Linked DNA regions of Homo sapiens. The protein of the gene in region 2 purifies or fractionates together with the protein of the main gene of each other region. This does not show direct contact. Each region holds a gene or a part of one and is shown on either strand. Other genes may lie near its edges.

What was found. The genes of interacting proteins can lie anywhere in the genome.
Region 1: the proteins of NBEAL1 (region 2) and ANKRD22 purify together in Homo sapiens (co-immunoprecipitation; one large-scale study listed by IntAct). This does not show direct contact.

Annotation. Positions count from the first base shown.
Region 1 is NC_000010.11:88,845,345-88,848,844, forward strand, and holds part of ANKRD22 (ankyrin repeat domain-containing protein 22), read right to left. Parts: intron 1-3,500.
Region 2 is NC_000002.12:203,133,375-203,136,874, reverse strand, and holds part of NBEAL1 (neurobeachin-like protein 1), read right to left. Parts: intron 1,199-3,500; coding exon 623-1,198; intron 277-622; coding exon 101-276; intron 1-100.

The sequences.
Region 1 (3,500 bases), on a different chromosome or scaffold from region 2:
TTTCCATGTCTAAACTCATCCCTTCTCTTGGCGTTAAATACCATGTATATGCAGACAACTCCTAAATTATTATCTCTTGCCCGAGCCTCTCCTTAAAGGTACATTTCCTGTATTCATCTTCCATCCCCACCTAGATGTCTCATGGATATCGCTAAAGTACCATGTCCAAATAGAACCCTGAAATGTGTCTTTCCTTCTGCCCCTCTCTGAGTGTTCCCATCTCATCAGCACCACCATCCACTGGCTGGCCTAAGGCAGAATACTGAGTATCAACTTTAATTTCTTACTTTCCTTCACTGCCAACCTACAAACCAGGAAATCTTTTAGTTAAAAATTTATCTAAAATTCACCCATTAGTCTAATGCAACCATCATTATCACTCCATAAACTACTGTAACAGCTTCCTTCCAAGATCCAGCTTTCCCTCTGGCATCTCTCAAATTTATTCTCCCATGCTACCAGAGTGGCCTTTTTAAACCCTAATGGTCATATTATTCCTCTCTTAAGATCCTTTACCCGCTTTCCATTGTGTTTTGCATAAAATCTAAATTTTTCACCTTGGCCTACAAGACCTGCCTGATCTGGCCCCTGACAAAGTCTTTACAGTGTTAACCACCATCGTCATTATTGCTATTATCACAATCATCTTGATTCAGAACCATTTCAGCTATTTCACCATTGGTTAATAAATGAACAACTGGAGCCTCATTATCAGTGTTAAAAATTTCTTCAATATCAACTTCTTCCAACTTACTGGTGGACTCTGAAGGTACTTTTTTTTGCGTATGTATGGTCAGACATCTTTTTTTTTTCTCATTTGACATACAGAATCATTCAAAGTCACTTTATTTATAATACTTACTGAACATAGTTGCAGGACAGAGGTTATGCCAGGTATGCACAACTGTCTTTAGTTACTGCATTACAAGCATTGGCAACAGCATATACAACATCCTTTATGCGAAACACCCACACCTATGTTCACTGCTGATAACATACTGTTTACGAAAATGTTTTATATTTACACTGATTGATCTAAGGACACCATTCTCACATGGCTAAATTAATAAAGTCACATTTGGGGAAAAGCACATGGAATAAGTATTACTTTTGATGAGAATTTTAGCTGAAGAATAAGCATAAAAGTTGTCAAGGAATAACAAAATCTTGCAGCCTTCATCCAGTCCAGCTTCCCTGCAGTGAGCATGAGCCATTGCTACAAAATGTTGTGAAAACAATCACAAAAGATGTCCCTGGTGACCCATGCCTTTTGTTAGCATGATAATGGACTAGTAAGAAATTTACTCTTTGAAAATAGTGAGAATTCAAGCTTTTGCCTATTACAGCAGGTTTACATTTGTGTGTGCCTGCTGCATTAGCACATCCCAGCGCAATTATCCTGTCCTTGGTATCCTGATTGCCCACAAGGCCTGTCTCATCGGCTGAAGTCAGTGTCTTTCTGAAGCAATAATGCCAAAACAGTGATGTTTCATCAGCACTATAGACTTGATCTAGTGTGAGAATTTTTATCAGTGATGATCTTGGCAAACTCATCAATAAATTTCTCTGCTGCTTTCTGATCAGCAGATGTTTCGTCACTACAAATATTTGAAAATTTAATGCCATGTTTTTTCTTAAATTTATGCCAAAGAACTACGCATATTCGCAGTTCTTTTAAATTTTCAGTTCATCGTGATAGATCTTTTCCTGTTTCATGATCAGCATACCATTAAGTGGCATGTGTTCTTTGTGATACTGATGGATCCACTTTCTCAATACACAATTGGGATCTTCATTTGTAGCTTTGTGGAATGTTTTTTTACATTTTTCATTAACTTCAGCATAGGACTTAAACAGTTTATCCTTCTATTTCTTTGAGTCATATATGGTGGTCATTTCAACACCATACTCTTTTTTTATTGTTACTTTTTTGAGATGGAGACTCACTCTGTTGCCCAGGCTGGAGTGCAGTGATGTGATCTCAGCTCACTACAACCTCTGCCTCCCAGGTTCAAGCAATTTTCCTGCCTCAGCCTCCCAAGTAGCTGGGATTACAGGCACATGCCTCCACACCCAGCTAATTTTTCTGTTTTTAGTAGAGACAGGGTTTCACCTTGTTGGCCAGGCTGGTCTCAAACTCCCAACCTCAGGTGATCCACCTGCCTCAGCTTCCCAAAGTGCTGGAATTACAGGCATGAGCCACTGCGCCTGGCCTCAACACCATACTCTTCTATCAGACATTTTATACCTATACCACTGTCCAATTTATCCAAAAGCTTGACTTTCTGTGTTATAAGTATACATAAATGCTTCCTTTTTTTTTCTTATCACTGTTACCCATAAGTATCTGCAGACCTTTTTGATATTTTCAACAGTATATTTACATCACAGAGTAGAGAAAAAGCAAAACAAAAACAAAATAAAAAAAAACCCCAAAAAACAAAAAAAGACACACACAGAGAAATACACACAAATCTTGGCCCCATGGAGGCAGAGTGGCAAATCTGCTATAGGCTCATTCATCCTGCACAGGTGCCATTTTTTACCCTTTGTGGACTTGCTTTCATGGGAAAAACTGGGTGTTCAAGAAAAAGATATATCACAGCCGAAAGGGGCTGGGAAATTCTTTTTTCTCTTGTTAATTCTGAGTAAACTGTGCATTGTGTACCTGCATTTTGACTGTGACCCATCACATGAGGTCAAGTAGGAAATTTTCTACTTGTTTCATGTTTGTGCTCAAAAATTTGGAGTTTTGGAGCACTTCCACTCAAATTTTCAGATTAGGGATGCCCAACATATATGCGTGTATATATATATATGTATATATGTGTATATATATATGTATATATGTATATATACATATATATATACATATATACACCAGGAACTAGAAGATGCCTGAAACATAGTATGTACTCAATAAATATGGTTGATTAAACAAATGGATGGGTGAATGAATAAATAAATAAAGGTATACACATTTTCAATCCTGGTGTCTTTTCATATGTGAAAGTTATCATTTTCTCTCTGAACTTTTGTGACTTAGCACAACATTTTAATTTGTAAAATTACTTTCAATATACAAGGAAAGAATTAGAAAACCAGTTGGGATGAAAACGCCTGATGCTCTTCTTGCATATGTTGTTGAATACCAAAATCTTGCTAGGAGTTCATACATAAACAAGGTAGATGGAGAGAGCTGGGAAGATTGTGAGAATGCAATTTTTTCCCCATTGTCTCTGCCTAGCCTTTCTCATATCACAGAATGACACGATGTTAAATGTGAAACCAGATCTCATTCAGCTCTCTTGTTTTGTAATATTAAAACTGTGACTCAGAGAGGTTAAATGACTTCCTCTCAAATCCCTTGAAGTTCCTGGCACAATCAGGTCTAAAATATAGGATTGCTTGACTTTCAGTCCAATGGCCATTCAATTAGTCACATCTCTATTCCTGTATTCCCTGACTTCTCCTCCTCAACTGTACCAGCTTTTCCAATA
Region 2 (3,500 bases):
TATATCCACAGAATACTGAATAAATGTTCAATAACTAACGTTATTTTAGACTCCTGCTGTCACCAAAAGGAGGATGGAAAATCACTAACTAAATGCTTACGTTAGTTTTATTTCATCTGATGGTCGAAGTAGTTCACTGGATATTCCTGGTTTACTTAGTGCTGAAAACACTTGTCCTCGTTCAATCCAAGTATCATCATCAGACTTTTCTAGTCCCTTACACATTACATAATTCAAAATATGTGTCAGTAATTGAAGAAGCTCCTCCTCACATCTCTATGGAAAATATAAAGTAATTTTAAATAACTAGAGGGTGTAGTTGTTCAAAGCACATCATAAGAACCATTACATATACTCATTGTAATCATTTAACATATTTTTAAAGTCCTTAATGAACCTGGAACTTTACTAGGCCCTAGAGACATAAGATGAGTAAGACATTAGCTTTGCTCTCAAAAAACTCACAATCTAGTGACTTCCAGGTTTCTAAACCTTAGATCATGAAACTTAGAACATGAATACAATATGAAATTGTTAACAACTGCTCACATATTTCTAAGGATTAGAAGTATATATCAGACATGAAAATAAAAACAACATTTGGAAAAATAAGCAATTTTACCTCTTGGCTTTCAAGTAAAGAGAAGTCATCACTAAAGCCCATATCATTTGTGATGCTGCTTTCTCTGTCAGAGTGCACAGAAAACGATTTAGTAGACTCTACTGGGGATGGTGTGCTAGGCAGACTGTCTGGCACTTGACTTCCACTATCACTCATTTCACATGAGTCAATTCCACTGAGGTCTAAACTCAAATGTGAAGGGTTACTATGCCAGAATTCCTCTTGATTCTCTGATTTGAAAGACAATTCTCCCACAGAGCTATCTTCTGGAAATAATGGTGTGTTTGAGTCTAAAGAGTGTCTATCCTCCAAACTCCACTGATCCGAAGACACATTAGCTGAGGCAAAAGAGGTGATTTTTTCCTCATCTGTTTTTTCATCAGAGTTCTTCTTGGTATCTTCAGTTGACATATTTTTATCATTGTCTTTCATTAAAACAGCTCTACTGTGCTTATGAAGAGTATTTCCGTTTTCAAATTTTGCTTTTAAAAAAAGCCTAACTAAGGTGTCTTGCCAACCCACTTGCTGTGATATTTGATGTGCTGCATCTGGCTGGAACTGCAAAATTTGCAAAACCTGTAAAAAGATTTAGAATACAAAATTCTTCAAAAAGTACATAGTACTTTATATCAAAAATAATATTTTCAGTTATTTTAATGATAAGGTAATTTAATGAGAAACTATAGAAGAATATACTTTCAAAAGATTATATTCTTAATTAGATTATAAACTATTTGGAAGACTGGCACTGTGTTTCCAACTAATCTCCATATTACTCATTGTACAGAGTAAGAGTACACTAAAATATCTGCTGGAAGATAAAAAAGAAAAATTAAAATGAATAGGATGATGGTATATGTTAAATAATAGAGTAATATCCTCTCAACTAAATACTTTCCATGAGCCCCCTACATTTGTTCAGGAAATATTATTGCACACCTACTATGTGCTAGGCACAGTTTTAGGCACTAGCATTAGGGGAGTGAATAGGACACATAAGACATTTTGATAGAAACTGAGTATACCAAGGATGTTTTTCTGTCTCGTTTTTTTCAGGGAAAGTTAAGTTTTTTTTTTTTTTTTGAGACAGGGTCTTGCTCTGTCGCACCAGTGCAGTGGTGCGATCTTGACTCACTACAACCTCCGGCTCCTAGGTTCATGCAACTCTCCTGCCTCAGCCTCCCGAGTAGCTGGGACTACAGGCACACAGCACCACTCCTGGCTAATTTTTGTATTTTTAGTACAGACAGGGTTTCACCATGTTGGCCAGGCTGGTCTCGAACTCCTGACCTCCTGTGATCTGCCTGCCTCGGCTTCCCAAAGTGCTGGGATTACAGGCATGAGCCATGGTTGCTTTTGCAAAAACTTTTTTGTTCAGTATGTCTACACTAAAGTCTACATTGCTTAGTAAGTCTATATTATACAAACAGAACAAAAACTAAACTTTAATTCCAGAAAATGAATTTCAGCAAGATGGATGCCACTGCTTAGCTAGAATAGTAAACAGTGACATGAGAATACGTATGATCTCTACTATCCAATTGATTAAAATTTTTAGATAAAAACAAGTTCTTAAAAAGCTTTAGACATTCAGTTAAGATCTTTTAAGACAATTTTATCACAAAGTCAATAAACTTCTATGTAGATGAAAAGAACTCTAGCTTCCAGGGTTTTGAGTATCTCTCTTAACAGAAGTTTTAGCTCTGACAATTTTCAGAGCAAGAGATGAACAATGTTGGTAAGGACTTCAATATTACTAGTACTAATACATGTTGATACAGAAGGCAAGGAGTCACAATGACGTGAAGATTCTTTCTTTATTAATACAATATCAATCAGTGAGCAACTGTTACTTTATAGGTGCAGAATAACAATTTTTTTCTTCCAGATTAAGCTTTACTTGGCAAAGAAACTTTTCATGCTGACTTTAAAGTTTCCATAAAATATGACTTATTTTATATCTATTTTATACATAAATAATAGATAAAACCAAGCTGCACTGAGAGCTGTTTCTAATTATACGTGAAAAGGAAAGGATCAATTTATATGACCTGCTCCAAATACTCAGAGCTAAGTACATAGGGAAATAATCACTGTCACACACACTGTTTGTATAAATGTAAACTGGTACAGTTATTTTGAAGGACAATGTGGAAAAATCCATCAAAATGTAAAACGTTAATACCCTTTGAAACAGCAATTCTATTTCATGGAGTATGTCCTACAGATGTATTACCACAAATTGGAAAACATAAAAAGACATTCATAACAGCAGTTTATAACATGGAAAAGCAGGAAACAACCTAAATGTCTATCAATAAGGAACCAGATAATACTTTATTAAATAGCCATACAATGAAACACTATGCATTTCCATTAAAGAGAAAAGGAAATTATACATATATATTATACAACAAATATATATATTTTTCTTTTCTGTCAGTTAAACAAATAAATTATATATGTGTGTGTATATATGTGTATATATATATAAACTCTATATATAGAGATCTCTTATTCTCACACACACATATATATATATATATATCAAGAACTGTGACAAAATCATGAGGTAAAATAAAAAAAAGAAAAGCAAGGAAGCAAATTAAATAGGTCAATGGTTACTAGTGGAGGACAGAGAAAGTTATGATCTGAAAGGGGAAGACAGGATAACTATCTCTTGACTTAGTTAAAGGTTAACTGTGTACTAAAGACAAATCATTGTTGGAATACTCCTAAACAAATTATAGAAAATTATTTCCAGAAAGTTTCAAAAGATTCAGAAACTCTATAATATGGTATATTAATTAGAAATGGTCACAATCATTGAAGGTTCTTAATAAGAAAATTATTCTCTGGTAATACATTTTTGACTCTG